7 linked regions of the Homo sapiens genome follow. The gene in region 5 interacts genetically with the main gene of each other region. Each region holds a gene or a part of one and is shown on either strand. Other genes may lie near its edges.

Evidence for each region.
Region 1: changes in CUL5 (region 5) and SEC24C together harm fitness more than expected from each alone (negative genetic interaction), as found in Homo sapiens cells (one large-scale study listed by BioGRID).
Region 2: changes in CUL5 (region 5) and FASN together harm fitness more than expected from each alone (negative genetic interaction), as found in Homo sapiens cells (one large-scale study listed by BioGRID).
Region 3: changes in CUL5 (region 5) and UBE2J1 together harm fitness less than expected from each alone (positive genetic interaction), as found in Homo sapiens cells (one large-scale study listed by BioGRID).
Region 4: changes in CUL5 (region 5) and SAR1A together harm fitness less than expected from each alone (positive genetic interaction), as found in Homo sapiens cells (one large-scale study listed by BioGRID).
Region 6: changes in CUL5 (region 5) and MAN1A1 together harm fitness less than expected from each alone (positive genetic interaction), as found in Homo sapiens cells (one large-scale study listed by BioGRID).
Region 7: changes in CUL5 (region 5) and SLC30A5 together harm fitness more than expected from each alone (negative genetic interaction), as found in Homo sapiens cells (one large-scale study listed by BioGRID).

What each region holds. Positions count from the first base shown.
Region 1 is NC_000010.11:73,764,476-73,769,041, forward strand, and holds part of SEC24C (protein transport protein Sec24C), read left to right. Parts: intron 1-975; coding exon 976-1,114; intron 1,115-1,324; coding exon 1,325-1,440; intron 1,441-1,610; coding exon 1,611-1,735; intron 1,736-1,874; coding exon 1,875-2,066; intron 2,067-2,284; coding exon 2,285-2,378; intron 2,379-2,578; coding exon 2,579-2,695; intron 2,696-3,361; coding exon 3,362-3,532; intron 3,533-4,334; coding exon 4,335-4,431; intron 4,432-4,531; coding exon 4,532-4,566. UniProt on the Homo sapiens protein: Component of the coat protein complex II (COPII) which promotes the formation of transport vesicles from the endoplasmic reticulum (ER).
Region 2 is NC_000017.11:82,080,808-82,085,373, reverse strand, and holds part of FASN (fatty acid synthase), read left to right. Parts: coding exon 1-136; intron 137-217; coding exon 218-339; intron 340-420; coding exon 421-575; intron 576-657; coding exon 658-861; intron 862-989; coding exon 990-1,140; intron 1,141-1,220; coding exon 1,221-1,399; intron 1,400-1,482; coding exon 1,483-1,602; intron 1,603-1,734; coding exon 1,735-1,857; intron 1,858-1,948; coding exon 1,949-2,172; intron 2,173-2,258; coding exon 2,259-2,460; intron 2,461-2,695; coding exon 2,696-2,847; intron 2,848-2,959; coding exon 2,960-3,051; intron 3,052-3,213; coding exon 3,214-3,365; intron 3,366-3,530; coding exon 3,531-3,773; intron 3,774-4,021; coding exon 4,022-4,210; intron 4,211-4,451; coding exon 4,452-4,566. UniProt on the Homo sapiens protein: Fatty acid synthetase is a multifunctional enzyme that catalyzes the de novo biosynthesis of long-chain saturated fatty acids starting from acetyl-CoA and malonyl-CoA in the presence of NADPH.
Region 3 is NC_000006.12:89,335,349-89,339,914, forward strand, and holds part of UBE2J1 (ubiquitin-conjugating enzyme E2 J1), read right to left. Parts: intron 3,196-4,566; coding exon 3,111-3,195; intron 2,963-3,110; coding exon 2,857-2,962; intron 84-2,856; coding exon 1-83. UniProt on the Homo sapiens protein: Catalyzes the covalent attachment of ubiquitin to other proteins. Functions in the selective degradation of misfolded membrane proteins from the endoplasmic reticulum (ERAD) and is essential for cells to recover from ER stress.
Region 4 is NC_000010.11:70,146,789-70,150,151, forward strand, and holds the end of SAR1A (small COPII coat GTPase SAR1A), read right to left. Parts: 3' UTR 501-3,363; downstream 1-500. UniProt on the Homo sapiens protein: Small GTPase that cycles between an active GTP-bound and an inactive GDP-bound state and mainly functions in vesicle-mediated endoplasmic reticulum (ER) to Golgi transport.
Region 5 is NC_000011.10:108,014,685-108,019,250, forward strand, and holds part of CUL5 (cullin-5), read left to right. Parts: intron 1-4,566. UniProt on the Homo sapiens protein: Core component of multiple cullin-5-RING E3 ubiquitin-protein ligase complexes (ECS complexes, also named CRL5 complexes), which mediate the ubiquitination and subsequent proteasomal degradation of target proteins.
Region 6 is NC_000006.12:119,177,696-119,182,261, reverse strand, and holds part of MAN1A1 (mannosyl-oligosaccharide 1,2-alpha-mannosidase IA), read left to right. Parts: intron 1-1,834; coding exon 1,835-1,950; intron 1,951-2,316; coding exon 2,317-2,443; 3' UTR 2,444-4,566. UniProt on the Homo sapiens protein: Involved in the maturation of Asn-linked oligosaccharides. Progressively trim alpha-1,2-linked mannose residues from Man(9)GlcNAc(2) to produce Man(5)GlcNAc(2).
Region 7 is NC_000005.10:69,121,083-69,125,648, forward strand, and holds part of SLC30A5 (proton-coupled zinc antiporter SLC30A5), read left to right. Parts: intron 1-611; coding exon 612-813; intron 814-2,116; coding exon 2,117-2,343; intron 2,344-4,566. UniProt on the Homo sapiens protein: Together with SLC30A6 forms a functional proton-coupled zinc ion antiporter mediating zinc entry into the lumen of organelles along the secretory pathway.

The sequences.
Region 1 (4,566 bases), on a different chromosome or scaffold from region 5:
ATTGCACCACTGCACTCCAGCCTGGGCAACAGAGCGAGACTCTGTCTCAAAAAAAAAAAAAAAAACAAGAGGTAGGGCCAAATTGTAGGGGAGAAGACAGCTGAATGTAGGAACCTCTCGTATCATGGTCATCTCCAGATGATGAGAAGGACATCATTCCATGTTTTCCTGACTGTCCTGTCATCCCAGGTTAGTGCTGTTAGAACAGCATATAAGAGAAAAGGTAGATTAGGATCCAGTGATCCTTCTGTCACCTGTTTTGGGACCTGATCTGTCACCCCAGTACCTGATACCAGCATGAAGAGAGCGAGCCAGGCAGCTGCTCCACCAGGCCTTGGTAGGATACTCATATTCAGCCTTGCTTATCTTACGATAGGGTTCTCTGTTACTAGAAGCCAAAGGCTCAGTTTATATTCTGCTTATCTCTCCGTCTTTCTCTGTGTGTTTGTCTATTTCTATCTGGGTCCCATTGGGGATAGTTGGGCACTGGTCTCTTATGTGTAGGGTGACATTTGCCTGGGGCATCAGTAACTGGCACAGAATCCCAGGGATACGGGAGGAGGTGTTACAGATATTTGGTTAGGGAAGGAGCTGGAATCAAGATTCTTAGAGCAAGAGTGAAGGGCATTAGAGATGGGGCCAGAAAGGAGAATCCTAGATAATCTTGGCTTTCTCCCTCATATGCCCATGGCAGCCCCTAGTCTGATATGGCCGGTTTTGCATTTCCTCTTCTCTTTCAGTGAGAAATGCAGCTCTGGGGGTGGGATGTAGGAAGAGGGAACTATATAATTTTTACTCATAGGGACATTTTCCTGTGATTTGTCTTTACTCCCTTTCATCATTGTGCTCCCTACTCCCTCTGCAGACAGAATATCTGCGCCATGCGCCTTCTTCCTCCGGTTGTTCTTCCTCATCTCCTGGCTGAACCTACTGTGGTTTTCCTTTATGTCTGATCCCTTCCCCTTTGCGCCTTAGGCTTCACCGTATGTTGTGGACCATGGGGAATCTGGCCCTTTGCGCTGCAACCGCTGCAAAGCATACATGTGTCCCTTCATGCAGTTCATTGAAGGAGGGAGGCGTTTCCAGTGCTGTTTTTGCAGCTGTATCAATGATGGTATGTTCATGGAAGCTGGGATTTGGGGGAAGGTCTTGATTGTATCTTCCTTGTTCTCTATTAAATAGTTAGAGAGATGAGGGTCCATCTTTCAGGAGCTGGGGAAGTAGGGCACATGGGAATGAGGGATAGTGGTGTGAGCTCAGCTAGGGCCAGAATACTAAGATTGAAACTGGATCTTCGAGTAACACACTGCCATGCTTCCCACAGTTCCCCCCCAGTATTTTCAGCACCTGGATCATACCGGCAAACGTGTGGATGCTTATGACCGCCCTGAGCTATCCCTGGGCTCTTATGAATTCTTGGCCACTGTAGATTACTGCAAGGTGAGGGAAGGTAGCATGGGAGGAGCAGTGAGTGGAGGATAATGAGACAGCTGAGAATGGCTGTTATCATTTCCCTCACCCCTTTTTTGTCCCTTTTTGATGCTGACTTCTCTATAGTCAACTGGCCTGCTTACCATTCCCCCTCTCCCCAACATTTTCTTCCTCTGCAGAACAATAAGTTCCCCAGCCCTCCTGCCTTTATCTTCATGATTGACGTCTCCTACAATGCCATCAGGACTGGTCTTGTTAGGCTCCTCTGTGAGGAGCTCAAGTCACTGTTAGACTTTCTACCTAGGTGAGAGTTACAGAACTGAGGTGTTTCCTGAGGTTAATGATAGGGTGTCTGGGTTGACTGAAGAAATGTAGCTTGGTGTCATGAAGTTGTGGGTGGTGGAAAAGGTGGCAAGTCTAGGTAACAATGTCACCTTCTACAGGGAGGGTGGGGCAGAAGAGTCAGCAATCCGCGTTGGCTTTGTCACCTACAATAAGGTGCTCCACTTCTATAATGTGAAGAGCTCATTGGCCCAGCCACAGATGATGGTTGTGTCTGATGTGGCTGACATGTTTGTGCCACTGCTGGATGGCTTCCTGGTCAACGTCAATGAGTCTCGGGCAGTTATCACCAGGTAAGAGCCAGATTGTGGAGGTAAAGGTTGGGGGTGGCATGGGTACCACCATAGAAGGTCATGGAGTTGAACAGAGGTATTGGACAGTAGATGGAAAGGGGTTGTGGCCCAGGAGTTGTCAGATTCTAGAGGCTTGATGACTCTTCAGGGAATCGAGAACTGAGGTATCTGGAATCTGTATAGCAATTTTGGTTGTTTTCCGTCACCTATCTCTTTAGCTTATTGGATCAGATTCCAGAAATGTTTGCAGACACAAGGGAAACAGAGACAGTATTTGTACCAGTTATCCAGGCTGGAATGGAGGCTCTGAAGGTAAGGCTGGAGTATCGGGCAACCTCCTCTAACTCCATTTTCCTCTGACCATCTTATCCCCTGGGATACAACCTCTCTTTCTTCAGTAGTGGGTGACTGTCCAGTGTGTTAGACTGTCTGACATAGCTGGTGCTTAATAAATGACAAGGGAAGAGATGGATGAATAAAGAATAAACAAGTAGTCCTCTCTTTTTTCCTAGGCTGCTGAGTGTGCAGGGAAGCTCTTTCTATTCCATACATCCCTGCCCATTGCAGAGGCCCCAGGGAAACTGAAGAACAGAGATGACAGGAAGCTGATCAATACAGACAAGGAGAAGGTGTGGGACTGGAAAATGGGGGAGGGGAAGGATTTTTCATTACAGAGGAAGTGGGGACTCTACTTTCTTGATGGTGGCTAGGACCAGACACTCCACCCTTTCAAATACCATATCTGTGACTGCCAACCTCCACTGCTGCCATACTTCTCTACTCCATCTGATGCCAAAGCTGTTGGTAGACTCTTGTATTTATTTATTTTTTAAAGAAGAACTTTTGGCCGGGCATGATGGCTCATGCCTGTAATCCGAGCGCTTTGGGAGGCCAAGGCGGGCAGATTTTTGAGGCCAGAAGTTTGAGACCAGCCTGACTAACATGGCAAAACCCCGTCTCTACTAAAAATACAAAAATTAGCCAGGTGTGGTGGCACACACCTGTAATCCCAGCTACTTGGGAGTCTGAGGCAGGAGAATCGCTTGAACCTGGGAGGCAGAGGTTGCAGTGAGCTGAGATCATGCCACTCTATGCCAGCCTGGGTGACAGAGTGAGACCCTGTCTCAAAAAAATAAAAATAATATAAAAGAAAATTTTTTACTATTGGAAAATCCTTGGAAGTAGATCTGAAGTCTTCCATGAATTTGAATATCCCATGCTAGATATACAGTTTTCAAATAGGGCGGAGCTGAGATATTTGAACATTTTCTTCTCCCCATTTTCTTTCCCCCTAGACTCTGTTCCAGCCTCAGACAGGTGCCTATCAGACCCTGGCCAAAGAGTGTGTGGCCCAAGGCTGCTGTGTAGATCTCTTTCTCTTCCCTAACCAGTATGTGGATGTGGCCACACTCTCTGTTGTGCCCCAGCTCACTGGTGGCTCTGTCTACAAATATGCTTCCTTTCAGGTATGGTGTGGGATTTGGGGCAGCAGGTGGCAGCAGGGCTGGGAATATCTGCTTATATATGCAGTGGCTGACTCATTAATAGAAATAGTGTTGGGGCCAGGCACGGTGCCTCACACCTGTAATCCTAGCACTTTGGGAGGCTGAGGCAGGCAGATCACCTGAGGTCAGGAGTTCAAGACCAGCCTGGCCAACATGGCAAAACCCCATCTCTACGAAAAATACAAAAATTAGTCGGGTGTGGTGGCGGGCGCCTGTAATCCCAGCTACTCAGGAAGCTAAGAATCCCTTGAACCCGGGAGGTGGAGGTTGTGGTGAGCCGAGATTGCGCCACTGCACTCCAGCCAGAGCGACAGAGTAAGACTCCGTCTCCAAAAAAGAAGAAATAGTGTTGGAAGAGAAGACTGCATAGTCTGAAGAAGTGAGCCCGAGAATGTGGCAGTTAGGAACATGGGCCTTGGAATCAGTCCTGCATTGATATTCTGGCCCCACCACTTACTAGCTACATGACCTAGGATAAATTTCTTAAGTACTTCCTCTTTTGTTCCTTCATCTGCAAAATGGTGTTAAAATACTTAAGTAGGATTTGTCAACAGAATTAAATAATTATATGTAAAGCACTCTGTGTGGTACCTGGCATGCAGTCTAAGTGTTTAAAAGCTATTATTGTCATCATCATTATCATCCTCACTGTTATGATGATGATAATTAGGTGGCCTTGTAGAGTGGAAGGGGTACAGGGAGATTGTCTGCACGATGAGCTATGTCTAGTCAGTGACATGACTCTGGACCTGGGGGCCTGCAGGTGGAGAACGACCAGGAGCGGTTCCTGAGTGACCTGCGTCGTGATGTCCAGAAGGTTGTTGGCTTTGATGCTGTGATGCGGGTCCGGACAAGCACTGGTCAGTCCTGATTGAAGAGCAGGTTGGGGGGCTAAATATGGAAGGGAGGCATGTGGCACTTGTCATACTTTTTGCCCTGACCCTGTCCATGTGGCCTCAGGTATCCGTGCTGTAGATTTCTTTGGAGCTTTCTAC
Region 2 (4,566 bases), on a different chromosome or scaffold from region 5:
GTCGCTGCGCCTGGTGGGCCTGAAGAAGTCCTTCTACGGCTCCACGCTCTTCCTGTGCCGCCGGCCCACCCCGCAGGACAGCCCCATCTTCCTGCCGGTGGACGATACCAGCTTCCGCTGGGTGGAGTCTCTGAAGGTCAGGCCCTGCCCCACCTCCAGGCCCCACCCCACCTCCCAACTTGCCGAGTGTGGCCTGACCCTCCCCGACCCGCTGTAGGGCATCCTGGCTGACGAAGACTCTTCCCGGCCTGTGTGGCTGAAGGCCATCAACTGTGCCACCTCGGGCGTGGTGGGCTTGGTGAACTGTCTCCGCCGAGAGCCCGGCGGGAACCGCCTCCGGTAGGAGCACGGCCCCTCACCACTTCCCCTTCCCCACCAGCCTCCCCATCCCCAGCCTGAGCTCCCCGCCTCTGCCCCCAGGTGTGTGCTGCTCTCCAACCTCAGCAGCACCTCCCACGTCCCGGAGGTGGACCCGGGCTCCGCAGAACTGCAGAAGGTGTTGCAGGGAGACCTGGTGATGAACGTCTACCGCGACGGGGCCTGGGGGGCTTTCCGCCACTTCCTGCTGGAGGAGGGTGAGCCCCCGACACTGCCCTGCCCCTCCCGGGAGACTGCACCCGAAGGCCCCGCAGCAGCCCCACCTCCCTGTTTCCCTAGACAAGCCTGAGGAGCCGACGGCACATGCCTTTGTGAGCACCCTCACCCGGGGGGACCTGTCCTCCATCCGCTGGGTCTGCTCCTCGCTGCGCCATGCCCAGCCCACCTGCCCTGGCGCCCAGCTCTGCACGGTCTACTACGCCTCCCTCAACTTCCGCGACATCATGCTGGCCACTGGCAAGCTGTCCCCTGATGCCATCCCAGGTATGGGTGGCATGGGGCCGTGGGAGTGGACTGGGCCGGGGAGCAGAGACCCCAGCAGCTAGGACCTGCCTGGGAGCCCCTCGGGAGGGAAGGGCAGGCGGTGAGGGGCTCAGTGCCGTCTCCCCCAGGGAAGTGGACCTCCCAGGACAGCCTGCTAGGTATGGAGTTCTCGGGCCGAGACGCCAGCGGCAAGCGTGTGATGGGACTGGTGCCTGCCAAGGGCCTGGCCACCTCTGTCCTGCTGTCACCGGACTTCCTCTGGGATGTGCCTTCCAACTGGTGAGTGTGTCGAGGGTGTGAGCCTGGGCCCCACGTGGATGGCGGCCAGGCCTGTGCTGACCCACCTGCTGCATCCCCAGGACGCTGGAGGAGGCGGCCTCGGTGCCTGTCGTCTACAGCACGGCCTACTACGCGCTGGTGGTGCGTGGGCGGGTGCGCCCCGGGGAGACGCTGCTCATCCACTCGGGCTCGGGCGGCGTGGGCCAGGCCGCCATCGCCATCGCCCTCAGTCTGGGCTGCCGCGTCTTCACCACCGTGGGTAAGGCCCCGCCCCCGGTGCCTCCCGCTGCCCTCCTGGCCCCGCCGCCCTGGCTCACCAGCCGCGCTTCCTCTCTTCACCAGGGTCGGCTGAGAAGCGGGCGTACCTCCAGGCCAGGTTCCCCCAGCTCGACAGCACCAGCTTCGCCAACTCCCGGGACACATCCTTCGAGCAGCATGTGCTGTGGCACACGGGCGGGAAGGGTGAGTGGCCCCCACAGCCCCCACCTGCCTCCTGCCTAGCCTCCGGCCCAGGGAGAAGCAGGGTCTGGCCCTCTGGACTGTGGTGGCTGGGCTTGCAGTGGGTGTGATTGTCTGGCCCCTCTGGCCCCCTAGGCGTTGACCTGGTCTTGAACTCCTTGGCGGAAGAGAAGCTGCAGGCCAGCGTGAGGTGCTTGGCTACGCACGGTCGCTTCCTGGAAATTGGCAAATTCGACCTTTCTCAGAACCACCCGCTCGGTGAGGCCGGCAGCGCCTGGGCGGGGGTGGGCATGGATGGGTGTGGGTGGACCTGTGGAAGGCCCTGGGTGAGCACGGCCCCTGCCCGCAGGCATGGCTATCTTCCTGAAGAACGTGACATTCCACGGGGTCCTACTGGATGCGTTCTTCAACGAGAGCAGTGCTGACTGGCGGGAGGTGTGGGCGCTTGTGCAGGCCGGCATCCGGGATGGGGTGGTACGGCCCCTCAAGTGCACGGTGTTCCATGGGGCCCAGGTGGAGGACGCCTTCCGCTACATGGCCCAAGGGAAGCACATTGGCAAAGTCGTCGTGCAGGTGAGGGGAGGAGTCCCGGCGCCTCGGGCACCCCAGGCTCTGGTCCCCAGGCAGTGCCTGAGCCGGTGGGTGCTGCTTGGACGCAGGTGCTTGCGGAGGAGCCGGAGGCAGTGCTGAAGGGGGCCAAACCCAAGCTGATGTCGGCCATCTCCAAGACCTTCTGCCCGGCCCACAAGAGCTACATCATCGCTGGTGGTCTGGGTGGCTTCGGCCTGGAGTTGGCGCAGTGGCTGATACAGCGTGGGGTGCAGAAGCTCGTGTTGACTTCTCGCTCCGGGATCCGGACAGGTGAGTCGGCAGGGGTGCTTGTGGACCAGCCTGGGCCAGGCACAGCCCCGGGCCCCTGAGCCCTTCTCTGCAGCCCACCATTGTGGGCTGTCACGGTGCCTGGGGTCTGTCCCCCTCCATCTTGTGGGGGGCTTGCTGGATGGGGCTCTGCGGCTGCTCCCCACTTCCCCAGCCCGGCGTGTAGGGAAGAGACCGTACCCTGGCCCAGTCCAGCCCACAGTCCTGTGTCCCGCAGGCTACCAGGCCAAGCAGGTCCGCCGGTGGAGGCGCCAGGGCGTACAGGTGCAGGTGTCCACCAGCAACATCAGCTCACTGGAGGGGGCCCGGGGCCTCATTGCCGAGGCGGCGCAGCTTGGGCCCGTGGGCGGCGTCTTCAACCTGGCCGTGGTGAGGGAAGGCCCCAAATGGGGCCCTCAAAAGCCCCAAGACCAAGGGGGGGACCCTGGGTGGACGGGTGAGGCCCTGGAGCTGCAGGGAGTGCTGAGGATGCCTCCCCCAGGTCTTGAGAGATGGCTTGCTGGAGAACCAGACCCCAGAGTTCTTCCAGGACGTCTGCAAGCCCAAGTACAGCGGCACCCTGAACCTGGACAGGTGGGTACCGCACAGCCCTGCTCCCGCCTCTGCCGGGCTCTGGGCTCAGGGCCGTGGGAGCCAAGGTGGTTTGTTGACAGCCCTCTCTGGCGTTTCCTGGGGATGGGACGTTGGGGGCTCCTGGGGATGCTGGCCAATGGGGAGTGACACGCGTGCCCACAGGGTGACCCGAGAGGCGTGCCCTGAGCTGGACTACTTTGTGGTCTTCTCCTCTGTGAGCTGCGGGCGTGGCAATGCGGGACAGAGCAACTACGGCTTTGCCAATTCCGCCATGGAGCGTATCTGTGAGAAACGCCGGCACGAAGGCCTCCCAGGTGGGCCCCACCCTCTCCCCTCGACCCTGCCCACCCTGCCCTCTCCCAGTGGCCACTCCCCACCCCCACCTTCTCCCCGCAGCCCTGCCCACCCCACCCTCTCCCAGTGGCCACTCCCCACCCCGACCTCCCCGCAGCTCTGCCCACCTGCCCCCTCCCCCACAGGCCTGGCCGTGCAGTGGGGCGCCATCGGCGACGTGGGCATTTTGGTGGAGACGATGAGCACCAACGACACGATCGTCAGTGGCACGCTGCCCCAGCGCATGGCGTCCTGCCTGGAGGTGCTGGACCTCTTCCTGAACCAGCCCCACATGGTCCTGAGCAGCTTTGTGCTGGCTGAGAAGGCTGCGGCCTATAGGGACAGGGACAGCCAGCGGGACCTGGTGGAGGCCGTGGCACACATCCTGGGTGAGCACTCCCAGTAGGAGCCGCGCCAGGTGTTTCCCCTGCTGGCATCAGGGTCTTGGGACATAGCAGTCGTGCCCCTGTGCGCCTCAGTTTCCCCATCTGCAGAGCCAGGGTGCGGGCGCAGGTGTCACTGTGGTGGTGGTGCTTTGGGAGATGCACAGCCCACGCACCCCTGGGTGTCAGCCCTGCCGCATACAGGCCGTCCCCATGCCCCCTCTGGAGTTGCCGACCCGGCGCATCCCTTCCAGGCATCCGCGACTTGGCTGCTGTCAACCTGGACAGCTCACTGGCGGACCTGGGCCTGGACTCGCTCATGAGCGTGGAGGTGCGCCAGACGCTGGAGCGTGAGCTCAACCTGGTGCTGTCCGTGCGCGAGGTGCGGCAACTCACGCTCCGGAAACTGCAGGAGCTGTCCTCAAAGGCGGATGAGGCCAGCGGTGCGTGTGGGTGGCCAGGCGGGAGTGGGGTCCCCGGGCCTCCCCAGCCCTTCCTCCTTGTTGTCTGGACCGTGTCCCGGCAGGCATACCGCCCTTCGTCACGGGTGCCATTCTGAGCGTTCCCACCCCGACTCCCACCTGACGTAGCACCGTGGGGACCTGCGTGCGTGTCTGTGTGTCCTTGCGTGGGTGCCAGGGCTCTGCACCCAGACCAGCCTGGCATCTGCCCCTGTCTTCACAGAGCTGGCATGCCCCACGCCCAAGGAGGATGGTCTGGCCCAGCAGCAGACTCAGCTGAACCTGCGCTCCCTGCTGGTGAACCCGGAGGGCCCCACCCTGATGCGGCTCAACTCCGT
Region 3 (4,566 bases), on a different chromosome or scaffold from region 5:
GGCTTGAATCGCTTCCAGATTTTAAAGGCAACAGGACATCCTTCATGGCAGAGCCACATCCTTCACAACAGAAATCTTGTGATCTAGTAGAAAAAGATTTTTTAAATGAAAATAAATAGTTAAATGTTTAATTCCCTCTCACTGAGACACTCAAATGCTCGATCATTAAACTTAAAAGAAAGGAACACTGGAAAATTCCACATCACATTTATCCACATGCTATGAATTAGAAAATTAATGTAATGATTATAGTCCTGAGACAAGTAAATGTTAGGCTGGCTTTAAAAAAATCCAGGGCTCAGATGCTATTTTTTCCAATAAACTATCTAAAGAAAAATAAGTTTTACATCTATACAATGAGAAAATTGTCTATTATACTGTCCTTGAGATCACATATAACAAACCTATTTTAAGGCTGTGAAAAAAGTCCTTTAACAAGATCAAATTATCTGTTAGCAGAAATATATATAAAGCAGTAAAGAAACTAATTAAACATAGAATTTACAGATATTTCTAGGGAAAAAAAAACCCCTCACAAATAGCAGTATAACTTGAAAGACTTGGGAGAACTTGCAGAAAATCCAAAGACTTAATTTATTGCTGATTATACATTAGGTAGAGACTCAGGATATGTCTGTTAACTAGATTATTTTCTAAAATATATTTGTTTTTCCATTTTTCCCTTTGTATTCCAGATATAGTCAAAACTTCCTTGAAGTTTACAAGAGTCCTCTGAGGATATGAATGACTGAAAGTAAACATGCATCATATATAAAACATATATTGTTACACTGTTAAACTTCCTTCTAAAAAATTGTTTTTCATAGTACTTCTAGTTCTATTAAAAAACCTTAGGTCTTGAAGAACATGCTATTTAAAATTATGAAATATCATATAAACAAAATATATGTAAAAGTAGCAATAATTTAGTTTTTCTGTTTGTTTGTTTGTTTGTTTGAGACAGGGTCTCCTCGTTCTATCACCCAGGCTGGAATGCAGTGGTGCAATCATGGCTTGCTGCAGCCTCAACCTCCCAGACCCCAGTGATCTTCCCACTTCAGCCTCCCAAGTAGCTAGGACCACAGGTGTGTGCCACCACACCCCGCTAATTTTTATTTTATTTTATTTTTTTTTTTTATTTCATTTTATTATTATTTTTTTTTTTGTAGAGACAGTGTCTCCCTGTGTTATCCAGATTGGTCCAGAACTCCTAGGCTCAAGCGATCCTCCTGCCTCAGCTTCCCAAAGTCCTGGGATTACAAGCATGAGCCACTGTGCCCAGCCTAATTTAGTATTTATTGATGAGTATTTCTTGTTTTACCAGAAGTGGCACTGTTGACCACACACCTTTGAGAATTGGTTATATACAAATTATTTGCTTCAAAATGTATTCACTTTTAACTGAGTCAGATGAACCTTAAGGGGAGTGTTTATTTTGAATGTATTAGTTTATCCACAATGGTAGCATGCTACCACGGTTGAATGCAAAAATCTTTGTTTTTTTTTTTTGAGACAAGGTCTCAACTCTGTCCCACAGGCTTGAGTGCAGTGGCACAATCATGGCTCACTGCAGTCTCAACCTCCCCAGGTCAAGCAATCCTTCCACCTCAGTCTCTAAGTAGCTGAGACTACAGGCACGTGCCACCACGCCCAGCTAATTTTTGTATTTTTTTGTAGAGCTGCAGTTTCGCCATTTTACCCAGGCTGGTCTCGAACTCCTGAACTCAAGCAATCCACCTGTCTTGGCCTGCCAAAGAGCTGGGATTACAAGTGTGAGCCACCATGCCCGGCCCAAAATCATTTTTTAAAAGGTTTCTATTATAGACTGAGAATCTAGAATATACAGTGAGAAGCCTAGAAGAACAAGAACTCCAGTTCTTTTTTTTTTTTTTTTACCTCGCACATGAAATCAACTGGATAAAGGCATCAAGATAAAAAAACCAACGTAGTAAATCGAATGAAAACAAATACTATGTATTCAAAGTACATAGTGTAATCTATGAAGAGCTGTATAAATAAAGTACATACCCATAGTTTGGAAATAAGGTTTAAAAAGAAAAGTTGCTTATAAGACCAAGAAGTCTACCAAATCTTCCAGATGCTAAAATCTAACTGATTTAGCAAATATCTGTAGAGGGCCTACTCTGGGGTGTGCTAGGGTAAAATATGATATAATTTAATTAACATAATATGTCTGAAGGGTGGTAGGCAGCAGACTCCAGAGCAGAAAAATTATCAACATCAAAAATTAGGTATCAGCACTACTCAAAGAGGGGCTACTCTGAATGGAAGGACTGATCTTGGTCATATAGACAAAAGTGCACCTGCACCTGAAAAAAACAGAGAAGGCATCACTTCTCTGTTTGTGATTGCCACTGGGCAATCACAACTTGATAAAATCTCTTTTGCTTTATTCCAGATCATTTATTAAGCACTTGCTATGAGCTAGATGCAAAGATGGATAAAGTGGATTACCTCTTGGCCCTCAAGAGGTTTGTAATCTTGTGGAAAGCTACAAATAATTGCTCTGGTTCTTTTCCATCTATAATGCCATAGTGGAAACAAATGACTGGTATTGTTTTCCAGGAGAATATATCTCCCACTGAATTTTTTAAAAATAGTGAAATAGTATCAACTACTTTTTAAGACTAGATAGCATTAAATAAATTACTTAGATTCTGGTCACTCCAAGGAAATTATTACAACTGAATTCCTAAAAGAGCAAAACTGAGATAAGATCCTGTAGCTACAGTCACTCAGAAAATAAGTCACATAGTAAGAGGTAGGCCCTACCTCCTAATAGCCATTACCCTGAATACTATTCAGACCTCAAGAAGAATGAAATGCAAAACTTACTTTTTGGCAAGTGCTCTTCTTTCCTCAGGAGTGTAATCTAGAGAACCTATGGCTCCCTCTCCTTTTGTTGGCATAAACCCAATGATGGCTAATAATGCTGTCCTTACTGAAATAAAAAAGTAAATATCAATCTAAATTGCTTTGTAAAAGCAACTGGGTTTATTCTGGAAAAAGAAAAAATCAGAGTATTATACTTCATAACTATGAATTGACTGAAGTTATGAGATTTATATTCACTATAAATTAACACTTACTACTCCACGAAGGCTGCCAAGTTTCAGGATGATGGCCTGAGATGCTCAAACAGATTTTCTTGCCCACTTCAAATCGACCATTAGCCTGAGGAATAAACAATGCATTTAGAAAATTAAATACATGTGCTTAATGTTTATACTTTCTGTAAAAATATACTATTTATATATAATAATTTTAGAGATTATCTTAAAAAGTTTGTTTTTTTTTTTTTTTTTTTTTTTTTTGAGATGGAGTCTCGCTCTGTCACCCAGGCTGGAGTGCAGTGGTGTGATATCAGCTCACTGCAAGATCCACCTCCCGGGTTCACGCCATTCTCCTGCCTCAGCCTCCCAAGTAGCTGGAACTACAGGCGCCTGCCACCAGGCCTGGCTAATGTTTTGTATTTTTAGTAGAGACGGGGTTTCACCGTGTTAGCCAGGATGGTCTCGATATCCTGACCTTGTGATCTGCCCACCTTGGCCTCCCAAAGTGCTGGGATTACAGGCATGAGCCACCGCGCCCGGCCAAAAAGATTTTTTTTTAAATGTAACCTCTCATGGGACACAGATTTTTTGTCCTTATAGACTCCAAAAATACTTGTTGGATGCTGAATAATAAAAGCTGTTTTTAGAAGGTGTTTTACAGCACCTTTTGAAACTGAGTTGCACAAGTGAAATCTAAATAATTAACATGTAAAGTTTTACTGGCCAGCGAAGTGGCTCACGCCTGTAATCCTAGCACTCTGGGAGACTGAGGCAGGAGGATCACTTGAGGCCAGGAGTTCAAGGCCAGCTTGAGCAACTTAGTGAGACACTGTCACCAAAAAAAGAAAAGAAAGAAAATTAGCCAGGAGTGGTGGCATGTGCCTCTAGTCCTACCTACTTGGGAGGCTAAGACAGGAAGATTACTTGAGCCCAGGAGTTCAAGGCCACAGTGAACTATGACTGCATTGCTGCATGCCAGCCTGGGTGACAGTGTGAGACCCTGTCCCCAAGAAAAGAAAAAAAAAGAGGAGAGGAGGGGAGGAGAGGGGGGGAGGGGGGAGGAGAGGGGATGGGGGAGGAGAGAGGGGAGGGGAGGGGGGAAGGGAGGGAAGTGGGGAGGGGAGGGGGGAAGGGATGGGGAGGGAAGAGGGGTGGGGAGGGGAAGGGGGAAGGAGAGGGGGGAAGGAGAGGGGAGGGGGAAGGGGAGGAGGGAAGGAGTGGGGGAGGGGAGGGGAGGGGAGAGGATTTACTAATGTCCTACCCTGTGCCTAGTATGGAGCTAGGCTCAGTTAAGAATCTAAAAGAGGCCAGGCATGGTGACTCATGTCTGTAATCCCAGCACTTGGGAGGCTAAGGTAGGAAGGTCACTTGAGGCCAGGAGTTTGAGACCAGCCTGGGCAACAAAGTGAAACCCTGTCTCTACAAAAAATAAAAATAAAAAAAATTTAGCCAAGCGTGGTATGTGTGACTATAGTCTCAGCTACTCAGGAGG
Region 4 (3,363 bases), on a different chromosome or scaffold from region 5:
TCTGATTGGCTTCCTATTCTGATTTTTTTTTTCCTTTCCCCGCCCTCGTTAGTTTGTCCAACCGGTGGGACATAATCTGCCCCATTCCCCCGGATGAGCCCCGGGGAGAGTAAGAGGAGTGCGGCGTCACGAGGAATCAGAGGAGAGGAGGGTGGGTCCCTTCAAGCCTAGTCTCGTTTGCTGGAATGTGGGAAAGGGAATAGAAATGAGCGCTGACGTGCCTAGATTTGCCCAGGCCACGACAGTACCTGTGAGCATCTGCCCAGGTCTAGGCGACCTTCAGCCTCTGACCCTTGGGATAATATGGACCAAGGAAATCCTTGGCCAATTCAGTGTTTTGAAAATTTAAAAGTAAACCCTATAGCAATCCACTAGGGGGCATGGAACTCTCAAGATTACTCCTAGGATTTTTTTTTGCTGCCAAAGCCCCAACACAAATCTCCGAGAAACTGGATTTGCTGTAAATTAAATTGCCCTTTAAATCGACTATGAACAGTAGCTGAAATCAAAAATTTTAATCATACAGGCCTATATTTTACAGTGTGCACATTTCACATAACATAACCACCAGCCAGGATTTATCTAGGCCAGGGTCCAAATACTTTCTGTAGAAGGCCAGAATGGAAACAGTTCCAGTTTGGGGGGACCATACAACTTGTCTCAAATAGTCAACTCTGCAGCTGTTGCATACAAAAGCTAAAGGAATGGCGGTGGCTGTGTCCCAATAAAAAGATACAGACATTGAAATTTTAATTTCATACAATTTTTTGTGTCCAAAAATAGCATTCTTTAAATATTTTTTCCAACCATTTAAATATGTAAAAACCTTTCTTTGCTCACAGGCCATACAAACACAGGCAGCAGGCCCGATTTGACCCACAAGGCATAGTTTACCATCTCTAGTGTACACTAACATAAACTGCTCTACTTTTCCAAAGAAGTACGCTTTAGGACAGAGGAGGATGAACGAGTATGTCGGGGAGTGGGGGGGCGCGGAGCTTCATGATACCCTCAATCAGTCACCACAAGCTAGACAGTTTACAAAGGTCTGCTTTATCACTGAATTGATAAAATACACATTATTTTTTATTTATTTATTTATTTTTTTGAGACGGAGTCTCGCTCTGTCGCCCAGGCTGGAGTGCAATGGTGCGATCTCCGCTCACTGCAAACTCCGCCTCCTGGGTTCACGCTATTCTCCTGCCTCAGCCTCCCCAGTCGCTGGGACTACAGGCGCCTGCCACCACGCCCAGCTAATTTTTTGTATTTTTAGTAGAGACGGGGTTTCACCGTGTTAGCCAGGATGGTCTCGATCTCCTGACCTTGTGATCCGCCCGCCTCGGCCTCCCAAAGTGCTGGGATTACAGGCGTGAGCCACCGTACCCGGCCATCATTAATTTTTATTAAGGTTACTGTATTGCTTACCATATACAATTGCTACTTAAATTCTCTAATCTTTCTGCCTGAATTCTTTAAATAAAGTTAACACTGCTTGGTATAACCCCAGCACAACACAGGATAATGCTCCCAGTACTCCCAGTGACACAAACCTGCTAGAGAAAGGAAAACGATTATCCATGATAGTATGAGGCAGGAATAAAATTAGGCCATCTTGCCATAGCAGGCGGTCTTCTTTTGGTTCTATGACACAGAAGGTGGCTTGATCACAGCACAATTTCTTTATCCCAACTTCCTAGCAATCAAAGAGTTTTTCTCTTGGTGGAGCACAGGGGCTCACACTTGGAATCCCAGCACGTTGGGAGGCTGAGGTAGGAGAATTTCCTGAGCCCAGGAGTTTGAGACCAGCCTGGGCAACATGATGAGACCTTAACTCTACAAAAATTTTGAAAACTAGCTGAGCACGGTGGTGCAACCCTGTGGTCCCAAGCTACTTGGGAGGCTGAGATGGGAGGATCACTTAAGCCCAGGAGGTCAAGGCTGCAGTGACCTATGTTCATACCACTGCACTCCAGCCTGGGCGACAGAGTGAGACCAACTCAAAAAACAAACAAACAAACAAACAAACAAACTTTCTCTCTCGAGTCCAGTGATTCTCCCTCAACGCTCAAGACTCCAGCATGAACTGTTAGGCATTGGGTTTTTCTGTGTTTACAGCAGACCATGGTAAAAAGAAGTCCCAAGTCACAGCCAGAACGCCAAAGTAAGATCTGTTGAGTGCTAGGCTCATGGACTGAGCCTAATCTTATTTTCCACTCTGCCTCAAACAAAACAACTCATTTGCCCATACAACCCATGGCATCCTTTCACAGTAACAAGGACAACAGGACACCTCCAGTACTTTTTATTTTTTTTGAGATGGGAGTCACCCAGGCTGGAGTGCAGTGGCGCGATCTCGGCTCACTGCAACCTCCGCTTCCCCGATTCAAGCGATTCTCCTGCTTCAGCCTCCTGAGTAGCTGGGATTAAAGGTGCGTCCCACCGTGCCTGGCTAATTTTTGTATTTTTAGTAGAGACGGAGCTCTGCCATGTTGGTCAGGCTGGCCTTGAACTCCTGACCTCATGACCCGCCCGCCTTGGCCTCCCAAAGCGCTAGGATTACAGACGTGAGCCACCGCGCCCGGCAATATCTCCAATACTTTAATACTTGGTTGAAAAGAACCCATTGCACTGTTTCCCACTGTTTGTCCCAGTACTTTAGTTTTATGATCTCATTTGGGTTTTTGTAAAAGCAGTCTTCCTACAAGCCTAGTAAAGGAAATTCTTTCTTTCTCATTTTGCCAAATGTAGCATTTAATTGATTTTTTTTTTTTTTTTTTTTTTGAGCTAGAGAGAGTCTTGCTCTGTCACCCAGGCAGGAGTACAGTGGCATGATCTCGGCTCACTTCAATCTCCACCTCCTAGTTCAAGCGATTCTCCGCCTCAGCCTCCAGAGTAGCTGGGAGCTACTCCATGTACCACAATGCCCAGCTAATTTTTTTGTATTTTAGTAGTGATGGGGTTTCACCCTGTTCCCCAGGCTGGTCTCAAACTCCTGAGCTCAGACAATCCACCCACCTCAGCCTCCCAAAGTGCTAGGATTACAGCGTGAGCCACCACACCTGGCCAATTCTAATTCTGTGTAAAATGAGTGAAACACAGCTAAACTAGAACTAGTCCTTGCTAGCATGTTAATATAGATTTTGCTCAAACATCTGCCATCCCCATCCTGTTGCAGAGATGACCAACAACCCTGGGTCCACAGCATGTTCCAAATCTCTCAAGTAGTACTAAATCTATTACTTCTAGTACCCCAGCCTTTTTCCCCCTCCTGGTGGCAAAATTCAAGTATCTCACACGCACCCTAAATGTCTCTTCCTCTATGCAGGGAACTTTTGGTTGCCTCCCCAAATAAACGGCATTGTT
Region 5 (4,566 bases):
CATTGAACGAGAATTTAGTATTTCCTAATTCTAACTAGATAATGATGAACTAGGCAGACAGCTCCTGCCCTTGTATAATTTACATTTTTGTTGGGAAGAGAGACAATAAACATAAACAGTGAAATACATACTGTAAGTCAAGTTGTGATAGGTACTATGAATAAAAACAACCAGGGTAAAAGAGAGAGTGCTCGGTGCTCTTATTATTATTATTATTTTTATTTTTATTTTTGAGACGGGGTCTCACTCTCTTGCCCAGGCTGGAGTGCAGTGGCACGATCTTGGCTCACTGCAACCTCCACCTCCTGGGTTCAAGCAATTCTCCTTCCTCAGCCTCCCGAGTAGTTGGGATTACCGGTGACCACCACCATGCTCGGCTGATTTTTGCATTTTTAGTAGAGATGGGGTTTCACCATGTTGGCCAGGCTAGTGTTGAACTCCTGACCTTAAGTGATCCTCCCACCTCAGCCTCCCAAAGTGCTGGGATTACAGGCATGAGCCATCACAGCTGGCTTATTTTTGATAAGATAGTGAGGGAATGCCTCTGAGGAGATAATAGTTGAGGTAAAACCAGAATGAAGCAAGGGAGCAAGTCATGTACATATTTAGAAGAGTTCCTTGTAGAGGGAACAGCCAGTGTGAAAGCACAGAGTCAGGATCATGCTTGGCAAGGAATATGGATGTGATACGAAGATTTGAATATCATCGGTGAATGTGGTTAAGGTGCATAACCAGAGAATTCTTTTTAATATGTCTAGTTAAACATAAATGAGAACCTTATTAAGAACTTGTCAATTTTTCATTGGGTTGATAGAAATTGCCCTCTTGAAACGTATATCTAAGAGGGACATGGGCCTTAGAGCGGCCTTCCCCTCCTTCAGTGTACTGTCCTAGAGAGATGGTTGCATTCGACACAGCCTAGGGAGGAAACAAATTTCAAGGGTGTCTGTGTTGGTCATGGGTAGGAATGGGAGAGGGAATAGTGGACTAATCAGTAACTGTAAAACTTTGTGATACATGTAAATGGTAGAATCTTTCATGTTCTATGAAAATAAATGATTGAACAATTACCATAATCTGGAGGTGATGTATGTTAATTAAAACTTCTAAAAGGAAGTGGCAGCTCAGGGTAAATTTTGATCAGTCATTTTTCAGTAGATTAGAGGAGGGGAATTTTAGACTGCTGGAAGGTAGAAAGAGGATACTAGGCATCTTTCTAGTAAAAAGAGAGGTTTTGTTTTTGTTTTTGTTTGTTTTGAGAGGAGGTCTCACTCTCACACAAGCTGCAGTGCAGTGGCATGATCATGGCTCACTGCAGTCTTGATCTCCCAGGATCAAGCGATCCTCCCACTTTAGCCTCCTGAGTGGCTGAGACTACAGGCACATACCACCCTAGGTCTGGCTAATTTTTTATAGAGATGGGATCTCACCATATTGCCCAGACTGGTCTCCACTCCTGAGCTCCAGTGATCTTCCTGCGTAGGCCTCCCAAAGTGCTGGGATTACAGGAATGAGCAAAAGAGCTAGTCAGCCAGAGAGGTTTTTCTTTTCTCTTCTCTTCTCTTCTCGTCTTCTCTTCTCTTCTCTTTTCTTTTCTGTTGAGACAGGGTCTCACTCTGTCCCCCAGTCTGGAGTACAGTGGCGCAGTCACAGCTCCCTACAGCCTTGACCTCCTCAGGCTCAGGTAATCCTCCCACCTCATCCTCCCACAGGTGCAACACCAGCATTCCCAGCTCATTTAAAAAAATGTTTAGAGACAGGGTTTTGCCATGTTGTCCAGGCTAGTCTGGAATTCCTGGGCTCAAGCAATCTGCCCTGTCCTTCCAAAGTGCTGGGATTACTGGCGTGAGCTACCACCCCTACTTGAGGTTTCTCTTAATAAATATTTTGCTTAGTGTCCTGGTGAACCCAGTTGTCAGTAAGAGCCATTTGCCTCCTGCCTTGGTTAGTAGGTGGAGGAAATAGATGCCTCATATGCTCTGTAAGGAAAGCAGGGCTGGGTGCAGTAACTCACACCTGTAATCCCAGTGATTTGGGAGGCCAAGGTGAGAGTATTGCTTGAGGCCAGGAGTTTGATACCAGCCTGGGCAACCCCATTTGTACAAAAACAAACAAAAAAAAACAAACAAAAAGCAGGATACAGCTCAGGTTAAAACTTTGGTCAGAGGCTGGATGCAGTGGCTCATGCCCAACACTTTGGAAAGCAGAGGCAGGAGGATCATTTGAGGCCAGGAGTTGGAGACTAGATTGGGCAGCATAGCAAGACCTACCACCTCTACAAAAATAAAAATTAGAAAACATTGGTCAAATCCATGGAGTACATACAAATAATATCAAAGGTAATTGATCTGTGTAGCTGTGGTTTGTTCATTCCATAAAAATCTGAGCATTTATGCTGTACTGGATACCATTTTAAATTTCAGGCTGGGCACAGTGGCTCACACCTGTAATCCAAGCACTTTGGGAGATTGAGGTGGGTGGATTACCTGAGCCCAGGAATTTTAGCCCACCCTGAACAGCATGGTGAAACTCGTCTCTACAAAAAATAAAAAATAAATACCTGGGGGTGGTGGTGTACGGTTTTAGTTCTAGCTACTCAGGAAGCTGAGTTGGGAGGCTTGCTTGAGCCCAGGAGGTTGAGGCTGCAGTGAATTGAGATCGCACCACTGCACTCCAGACTGGGCGACAAAGCAAGACCCTGTCTCAAAAAAAAAAAAAAAAAAAAAGTATCAGTGATACAATAGTGAATATGACAAAGTTCTTAGACTTTGGGGCTTATATCCTGATGGATGAATACTGACACTAAAGACATAAAGAATACACTTGCATAGTTTTTACTGGTAATTAGGGCGGTAGCGAAAACAACGTGATAAGAATGTTCAAGGCCGGATGCGGAGGCTCACGCCTGTAATTGCAGCACTTTGAGAAGCCCAGGTGGGAAGATCGCTTGAGCCCAGGAGTTCAAGACCAGTCTGGGCAACATAGTAAGACCTCATCTCTACAAAAAATTTAATAATTATCCAGGCATGTTAGTGCATGCCTGTAATCTCAGCTACATGGGAGGCTGAGGCAGGAGGATTGCTTGAGCACAGATCAAGGCTGCAGTGAGCAATGTTTATGCTGCTGCACTCTAGCCTGGACGACAGAGTGAGACCCTGTCTCAAAAAAAAAAAGTGTTCGGAAGGTGGAGCCACTATTTTACTCACTTATTTACAACAGAAAATAATTTTTCCCCAAAAAACTGCTTTTGACTATTTTTTGTTGAATGTTCTTTTTCTTCCTCATGTTGACATTTCAGCCAGATCCTATAGCTTTCCTGGGCTTTTCTTAAAAGTCTGGTTATTCCAAATTAAAATTTCAGTCTCATAGCCAATCAGAGTGTCTCTTGTACCATCTCAAGACTTTGTCTCTGGATGTGCAGAGAGGAATGGAGGAAGGGCATTTTTCTTAGGTTGGTTTGGGAGGCCTGAGGTGGCATTGGAGCTGAGACCTGAATGATCTGCATTCTAAGGCAAAGGTCTTGAGGTGCAGTGATGAGCTTGGCCTGTTTGAGGAACACCTTTAAAAGGTTGCTGTGGCTGGAACATAGAATTGCAGTAGTAAGAATTACTGGTATTCAAATATATACAATCAGCCCTCAGTATTCATGAGTTCCATGTCTGTGGATTCAACCAACCAAAGATTAAAAATACTCAGAAAAGGCTGGGGGTGATGGCGCATGCCTATAATCCCAGCACTTTGGGAGGCTGAGGCAGGCGGATCATGTGAGGTCAGGAGTTCAAGACCATCCTGGCCAACATGGTGAAACCCCATCTCTACTAAAAAAAAAAAAATACAAAAATTAGCTGAGTGTGGTGGCACATGCCAGTAGTCCCAGCTACGCAGGAGGCTGAGGCAGGAGAATCACTTGAACCCACGAGGCAGAGGTTGCAGGGAGCCGAGATCACGCCATTGCACTCCAGCCTGGGTGACGGAGTGAGACTGTGTCTTAAAAAAAAAAGAGAGAGAGAAACATCACATATATGCACTTAATGTGGCACCCGCACACATTTATTTTTATTAAGCCACCTCACTTTTGTTGAGATAAGAAAGATTTTATGAATCCCCTATAGATGCAAGTAGTGTACTTGCAATGTAACAATGGTTATGAGCTCAGCCTCTGCAGCCACACTGCTTGGGTTGGCCTCCAGGTTCTGCCATTTGCTAGCTGTGTGGTATTGGGCAAGTTACTTAACATCTCTGTGCCTCAGTTTCTATATCTATAAATAGCAGTGATCTCAAAAAAACCTCAGAAAAAAATTGCGTCTGTATTGAATATGTACAGACCTTTTTTTCTTATAATTCCCTAAACAGTACAGTATAGCAGCTGTTAGCATTTACATTATAGTAGGTATTGTAAGTAATTTAGAGATGGTTTAAAGTGTATGGGAGGATGTGCATGGGTAATAAGCAAATGCTATGCCATTTTCTATCAAGGACTTGAACATGTATGGGTTTTGGTATCCCGATGGGTGGGGGTGGGGGTGGGGTGGGGTGGATCCTGGAATCATTTCCCCACAGATACCA
Region 6 (4,566 bases), on a different chromosome or scaffold from region 5:
AAAATATATAAGGAACTTACAATTCAGTAGCAGAAAAACAACCTGATTTCAAAATAGGCAAAGGACCTGAAGAGACATTTTTCCAAAGAAGACGTACAGATGGCCAGTAGTGAAAAGATGCTCAACATCACAAATCATCAGGGAAATGCAGATTAGAACCACAGTGAGATATCACCTCATACCTTTTTAAATGGCTATTATCAAAAATTCAAGAGGTAATCAGTCTTAGTGAGGATGCAGAATAAAGGGAACCTTTGTACACTGTTGGTGGCAATGAAAATTGATATAGCCATTATGGAAAACAGTATGGAGGTTTCTCAAAAAATTAAAAATAGAGCTACCATATGATCCAGCAATCCTAATTCTTGGTGTATATCCACAGAAGATGATGTGTATCCACATCAGAAGATGATGTATATCCACCACAGAAGATGGTGTATATCCACAGAAGTAGTGTATATCAAAACATCACACTGTACACCTTCCAGTATATACTATTTGTATTTGTCATACATCGGTAAAGCTGGAAAAAGGTTAAAGAAAAATAGAAACAAACAAAAGAAAGAAAGTGGGCTCTGAAAGGGAAAAAGAAAACACAAACAGCAGCCATCTTAGTGGTAACCAACAAAGTGGAAGGCAGGTTGGTTTAGGTTGTTACCTAAATGTTCATCCTCACACTGCCCAACCCATCTGTTTTCCAAATATTCATTAAATTCAGACAACTACAGAAATGTAGGATCATTTCTCTCTAGAGAGTTGTCAGTGGAGTCATCCCATCTTCTTCCATACTAGACTGAAAAAAAAAAAAAACATGTATTTTAGGAATAGATCCCAGCCACATGTCTCTCACTGTCTTTCATTTTCTTCTTTTAGCTCTGTTACCAATATCACTGATGAGTACCCTACAATCAATTTTCAGAAACTCAGATACTCTGATTATAGAAGCAGCTGATTTTGTTCCAGTACGGTTTCTCAACCAGTGGTTTATGATCCCAGTTGACATTAGCAGTCTCTCCAAACTAGGGGTCAGCAAACTCTTTCTGTTAAGGGCCAGACAATATCAGGCTTGGGGGACAGCCAGCTAGTCTCTTTTGCATCTACTTAGCTCTGTCATTGTAGTACAAAAACAGCCACAGACAATATTTAAACAACATGGCTGTGGTTTAATAAAAGTTTATTTACAAAAATAAACAGTGGACTGGATTTAGCCTATAGTTCATACTTTGCTAAACCCTGCTCCAGACCATAGGGGGAATTGGTAAAAATCAGTGAAAAATTTTTCCAAAACTAAAGGCAGAAGTGTTTCAAATTAGGTAAGATATGTGGTCCATATGTTCTATGACTTCATTTTTAATTTACATTTAGTTTATGGTTTTAATTTTTTTTTACCTAAAACTCTATAACAAACTTTCATTTAATTTGAATCCAATTTGTAAAAAATAAATTTTGACTGGGCACAGTGGCTCATGGCTGTAATCCCAACTCTTTGGGAGGCCGAGGCAAGCAGATCGCTTGAGCCCAGGAGTTTGAGACAACCATGGGCAACATGGCAAAACCCTATCTCTACAAAAAATACAAAAAATTAGCCAGGCATGGTGGCGAATGCCTGTGGTCCCAGCTACTTGGGAGGCTGAGGCAGGAGAATCACCTGAGCCCAAGAGGTAGAAGCTGCAGTGACCCATGATGGTGCCACTGTACTCCGCCCAGGCAACAGAGTGAGGCCCTGTCTCAAAAAAAAAAAATGTTTTATCTGAACTTGACAATCTAATAATAAAAATTAGTGACAATCAGTTTACTGAAATGTGACTTTTTTTTTTCCTCCTCTATAATTTAGGCCTTGGAAAACCATTGCAGAGTGAATGGAGGCTATTCAGGCCTAAGGGATGTTTACCTTCTTCATGAGAGTTATGATGATGTGCAGCAGAGTTTCTTCCTGGCAGAGACATTGAAGTAGGTGAAAATTATTCTAAAACCATGTGGCTAAGGTACCTGAACAGATCTTTGTAGATGTCTTTATCATGAACACATTCAAGTAATATCAAGTATGCCTGATTCAGAATATCAGGCATGGCTATAATTGCAGGTATATTCTCAATAACTAGGTTCAGTGACTTGGTACTGCTAACACCAAAGCACTGAGTAGCTGCTTTACCCCATGTTAATGAGTATAACCCCTCAGGGTTTTGATATATTTGACTCTTGTCCATGTTTCTTGGTAAGATGAATGCAGACATTGATGTGGTTTTTGCTGTGTGTTTGTGGTTTCACTGCCTGCCTAGTGTCTTGGGCCTCATATACTTATGTTTCTCTCACCAGATATTTGTACCTAATATTTTCTGACGACGATCTTCTTCCACTGGAGCATTGGATCTTCAATAGCGAGGCACATCTTCTCCCTATCCTCCCTAAAGATAAAAAGGAAGTTGAAATCAGAGAGGAATAAAAAGACATTTTATATTTTATTCTGCTCCATTCCCTTCACTGTATACCTTAATAATTCCTTTTCTGGTAATCAGGCACATGATGAACTTTGATTAGTAGGTCTGTGATTAAGTTCTTAAATTGTTTTGCAGTCTTTTATGTTTATTATCATAGGTATAGGTGGACCTAAATTCCTTATCATATCCTTTATTAATTCAGCCAGTGTATCCACCAGTTTTTTGTTTATGTTTTTAAGTAACCTATTATCTCTGGATTTCATGAAGGTGTAATATCGTTTTTGTTAAACTGAATAGAATTGTATAGCGATGACCTCTTAATTATAATTTGATTTGACTGCAAAACTTTTTCCTCCTCTAAGAGGAGATGATGTCTGCTTTAAGCTGTAATGTTTTGCCATGTTGCAAAAAGCCATAATAATAAGTATAAAAAAGCTTTTTCCTTTACAATTTCATGTTAATCTGGTTTGTCTGTCCACCAGAGACAGATCTTCTGTGACAGCCTCCTTATGCAGGTCTATCATTATTTGATAGAATGTCTTCTAAAATACTTCACTCACATTGTAATTCAAATTAGAAAGTCATTCCAAAAGGATCATGTCATGTTGACCTCATTTCATCGGAACTGCAGTATATTTTTGTTGGTTAATTATATTAGTGTTTTCTATTTTGTAAATGTGTCCTTTAATTTTACTTTAAATGCCCTGTGTCATTTCTGGATTATATACTAGTTAATTTCTTCCATTCCCCACTACACAGAGAGGTGAGCTTTCAAATTTTGCAGAGCTCTGCTATCACTGAATTACATTTATCTGAAGAAAATAGTACAACTTAATGGATTAGCTTTTGGGTTTAACTGAATATATGAAGAAATTGGGTCTGTCTAAAGAGAGGGTATTTCATATGGCTTTTAGTTCACTTGTTTGTATTTCATCTTGATTTTTTTCTTTGGAAAATAAAGCATTCTATTTGGTTCAGATTTCTCAGATTTGAAAAAGGCTCTATCTCAGATGTAGTAAATTATTTCCTTTCAGTTTGTGAAAGCAGGATTTGACTCTGAAAGAAGCTTTGCCAATTTTACTTATTCGTGATCAATCAAGGAAAATCTAATAAATTTTAGGCCAAATAAGAATATAGCATATTTAGTATGGTTATAGTCAACACAGAGATCACAACTTAGAAGAAATATAAAGAAATGGCCACTCCCCATCCCCCACAGTCCTGGAGTAAATCAAAATCAATATATGATTCTTTTAAACATTAAGTTTGAAATAGGAATGGTTTTCTCAAGAATAGATTTGGTGTGATACCTTGTGTTTGCTTACATTGGCCCACTATATATACATATATATTTATGTAGATATACTTCCATGAAAGGGCTAATACGATGCATATACTGAAGGGCAAGGACTTTGACCATGTCAATTTTCAGCCGAGAATGGTCAGAAAGATCAGTACAACCCCATGGATTAGGCTGAAACATATGAAATTGCTGCATTTGTAGTTTAAAAACTGTCAGCAGTTTCATATGGTTCCACCTAATATTATTGAAGACAATTATTTTCTTAGCTATCAATAGGCTTAATAGTTTTAGTTATTTTAGCTTTTGAAAGTGTTTTAAAAGATTTCCTTTATCGGACAGGACCATCTTTATGACCTGCTTTCTGTTTTTCAATATCATACATTGGTGTATGTCAAAGAATAAATTAGTAAAATTAGTAAATGAAAAAGACTCTTCCGTACATCATTATTTCCATGCTAATGTGTGTCTGTGATCCAGAATAACTTCTCCCACTCATATCTTCAGTTCACCTAATGAAATGAATGGATAGCAAGAGCCCTTTGTTCCCAGGACTTTAAGGCAAAATATTAAAAATTATTGCCAAAATTAAGAATATAATGTTTGTATAAATGTCCTTGAATTTGCCATTTAAATTAACTCATTTTCTTTTCACTTTGATTTGAAAGCTGATAAGTATTTCTGCAGCAGATAGAATATTAAAATCAGGTTGTGTGTACACACTGCACTATGAGGTACCTTGGTGTCCTGGTGTGAATAGACAAGAAGCTGTACTATATGTTGCTCTCTCAGTGGCAACAATGAAGTTTTTGCAATTCTAGAACTTGG
Region 7 (4,566 bases), on a different chromosome or scaffold from region 5:
TTGAGCCCAGGAGTTTGAGGACAGCCTGGGCAACATAGACCCTGTCTCTACCAAAGAAAAAAATTTGTTTTTAATTTAAATAAATGCGAGATTACTATTGTATGTTTCCTTTTTATTATACTTGTTTTACTTTGGAAAATTTTACTGTGTTTAAGACATAATAAGACCATATTTGGAATCTGCTCATTAATAAATTATAATTGTTGGCATATAAACTGTTCAAATTTACCTAGCAATATAAAGATTTCAGGTACAGTGTATACTTGCCCTAGTAAGCAGTACTTTCAAACTCTTCAATAAACAAAACAAAACTTTGCATCATTTATTTATACATAAACCATAAACCAAGTACATACCATTCTTAATTGAAATAAGTCCAAATTCCTCTACTTACCAATTCTGCTTGATATTTGAAAGTTAAAATGTTTCTTCTAAAATGTTCTAAAATTCACATTTTTAAAATTTTGGACTTACTGAAACTTAGTAAGGTTTTACTGTGAATACTTTCAAAACTGTAAACAGAAAAACATATATAGCTATATAATAACTTTTAAATAACAAGTCTATTTTTAAATTACTAATTTAAAGGTTTTTTTTCTCCCTTTTGCTAGCCAGTCTCAGTTGGAGGGCTGATAGTAAACCTTATTGGTATCTGTGCCTTTAGCCATGCCCATAGCCATGCCCATGGAGCTTCTCAAGGAAGCTGTCACTCATCTGATCACAGCCATTCACACCATATGCATGGACACAGTGACCATGGGCATGGTCACAGCCACGGATCTGCGGGTGGAGGCATGAATGCTAACATGAGGGGTGAGTCCTTGCAAAATATTATCCTACTTTTCAACTGTGTTCTAAATCAACCCTCTGTGTTTATTTGTATTAAGTTTTGGGCTTCTGGTATGATATGATTTTTAAAAAGCAATCTGTGACTAAAAGAAAGGTCTGAAGCTATCACTATAGAAAATATTCTTACCTGAATACACATAAAATTAAATATTATTCAGCCTTTAAAAAGAGGGACATTCTGGCTGGGAGCATGGTGGTTCACGCCTGTTAATCCCAGCAATTTGGGAGGCTGAGGCGGGAGTACCACCTGAGGACAGGAGTTCAAGACCAGCCTGGCCAATATGGTGAAACCCTGTGCCTACTAAAAATACAAAAATTAGCCGGACATGGTGGCAGGTGCTTGTAATCCCAGCTACTCAGGAGGCCGAGGCAGAAGAATCGCTTACAGGTGTGAGCCACCATGCCTGGCCGTCACAGAAAATTTTTTAAAAAGAAAATGAGGCTGGGAACAGTGGCTCACATCTGTAATCCTAGCACTTTGGGAGGCCAAGGTGGGTGGATCACCTGAGGTCAGGAGTTCGAGACCAGTCTCTCCAACATGGTGAAACCCTGTCTCTACTAAAAATACATAACTTAGCCAGGTGTGGTGGCAGGCGCCTGTAGTCTCAGCTACTCAGGAGGCTGAGACACGAGAATCACTTGAACCTGGGAGATGGAGGTTGCAGTGAGCCAAGATTACGCCACTTTACTCCAGCCTGGGCAACAGAGTGAGACTCTATCCAAAACAAAAAGAAAATGAAAATATATTTGTTCTTAAATGTTAGTTTTTAAATGATTATAATTATATAGTCCTTTTCATAGTGACAGCTGAATAGATATTAGTTGCAAGGTAAACACAGTGTGCTATTATGAACCTTCATTACAAAAAGGAAATTCTTACTCCTTTTTTAGAAATTTTTATTGCACTATAAAAAAAATGGAGGAAGTACTAATCATTTATTTTGCTGAATTGTTTATTCTGATTGCTTAATATAAGTAATGTGGGTAATGTCAAAACTTGCCTCAAGTATGATTTTTGGGAAGCCTTTCCAGACAAAGTACACCATAAAATTTGGCACGCTGTGTCATGAGTGCCTATGTCCTTATATTTTTACCACTGTATTCTGAATTCCTTGAGGGCAGTGACCATGTTTTAGGCATTTTGAAGTACTAGCCAGTAGCAGAGTATGTGGTGCACAGTAGGTATCCAGTAATATTAGTAGAATGTATTAAAAAACTAAATTAGATGTGCCTTAATTTTTAATGTCCTTATATATTTTATTTGTAGGTGTATTTCTACATGTTTTGGCAGATACACTTGGCAGCATTGGTGTGATCGTATCCACAGTTCTTATAGAGCAGTTTGGATGGTTCATCGCTGACCCACTCTGTTCTCTTTTTATTGCTATATTAATATTTCTCAGTGTTGTTCCACTGATTAAAGATGCCTGCCAGGTTCTACTCCTGAGATTGCCACCAGAATATGAAAAAGAACTACATATTGCTTTAGAAAAGGTACTGTATGTAATTTCTTCACTACTTTCTTCCTTGAAAATCACATTTTTGAAGTCTTTGCTGGAAGTAAAACAGACAACCAAATAAATAATAAAACAAAACGAGGCCAAAAAAGAAATATAAAGTAGCATTTAAAATTTAATAAGTTGACCTAACAAGAAATATGCAAGATATAAATGAGAAAAATACAGTTTTACTTAAAGGATATAAAACAGGGACCGAATAGATGGATGAGATTTTCTTGGATGAGAAGACTCTTTATTATAATGATGTTGATTTTATTTTATTTAGATTTCAATTTAGTTGCCTTCATTGGATATTTTTGTTTATGGTTTGGGATGTTCTAAAATTATTTGGAACTTACTTGGAAGAGTTAGCGCTTGAGAATAAGAAAACATACATAAACTTACAGAATTAATTAATAGGATCCTACTTTGCAATTATAAAGTAGCAGAATTAAGTGACAAAACTAACAGTTTAGATCGAGACCATCCTGGCTAACAAGGTGAAACCCCGTCTCTACTAAAAATACAAAAAATTAGCCGGGCGTGGTGGCGGGCACCTGTAGTCCCAGCTACTCGGGAGGCTGAGGCAGGAGAATGGCGTGAACCCGGGAGGCAGAGCTTGCAGTGAGCCGAGACCACGCCACTACACTTCAGCCTGGGTGACAGAGCGAGACTCCACCTCAAAAAAAAAAAAAAAAAACCTAACAGTTTGGTCCTTGCACAAGAATAAAGACATAAATCAACTTTTAAAAAAATAATAAGTTCCCATTCTTGTGACCTGGGATTGTTTCCTGGACAGCACAAAAAAAAAAATAGTAACAATAATAATAGGTTGTCTGTAAAAGAAGAAATAATAAAAAATGAAAATAAATGAAGAATTATGGTATGTAATGTAAAAGAAGAAATAAAAATAGGTTGTCCAGAAACAGACCCAGGAGTTTATGGAATTCAGTATATAGCAAAGATGGTATTTTAGATCACTGGGGAGAAATAGTTGACCTAAATAACCAGCTTTTGGTTAATTACTTCTTTACTTTGTGGGGAAAAAAAAGCTATATCTCTATACCATATTATATAAAAATACATTTCCAGTGGATTAAATATGTAAATGACAAAAAAATTATGAAACTACTAAATAGAGAAATATTTTTGTTTGTTTGTTTTTTGAGACAGTCTTGCTCTGTTGCCAGGCTGGAGTGGAGGGGCGCAATCCCAGCTCACTGCAACCTCCACCTCCCGGGTTCAAGCGATTCTCCTGCCTCAGCCTCCCAAGTTGCTGGGATTACAGGCCTACCACACCCAGCTAATTTTTGTATTTTAGTAGAGATGGGGTTTCGCCATGTTGGCCAGGCTGGTCTTGAACTCCTGACCTCAAGCTATCCACCCACCTTGGCCTCCCAAAGTGCTGGGATTACAGGTGTGAGCCACTGCACCCCGCCAGAAAAATATGTTTATAATCACAAAGATAGGGAAAGACTTTTTAATATACTTGAAACCAGAGGCCAAAAAGGGAGGATAAAATTTACAAATTTGACCAGTTGAAAATTGCCAGTTGGTGGAAGATTTCATTAACAAGTATAAAACATAAAAGGCAGACCAGGAAAAAACATTTGCAGCACATATAAACAGGCAAAGGTTTACTGTCCATAATTCTTTAAGTCAAGAAAAAGACAATCTTAGCTGTGCATGGTGGCTCATGCCTGTAATCCAGCACTTTGGGAGGCTGAGGTGAGCAGATCACCTGAGGCCAGGAGTTCAAGGTCAGCCTGGCCAACATGGTGAAAGTCCATCTCTACTAAAAATACAAAAATTAGGGTCGGGCACGGTGGCTCACGCCTGTAATCCCAGCACTTTGGGAGGCTGAGGCAGGCAGATCACGAGGTCAGGTGATTGAGACCATCCTGGCTAACATGATGAAACCCCATCTCTACTAAAAATATAAAAAATTAGCCGGGCATGGTGGCGGGCACCTGTAATCCAAGCTACTCAGGAGGCTGAGTCAGTAGAATCGCTTGAACCCAGGAGGTGGAGGTTGCAGTGAGCTGAGATCACGCCATGGCAACAGAGCGAGACTGGCAACAGAGCGAGACTCTGTCCTTCCCCACACACAAAAAAAAAAATTAGGCCTGGCACGGTGGCTCAGGCCTGTAATCCCAGCACTTTGGGAGGCCAAGGCTGGCGGATCACAAGGTCAGGAGATTGAGACCATCCTGGCTAA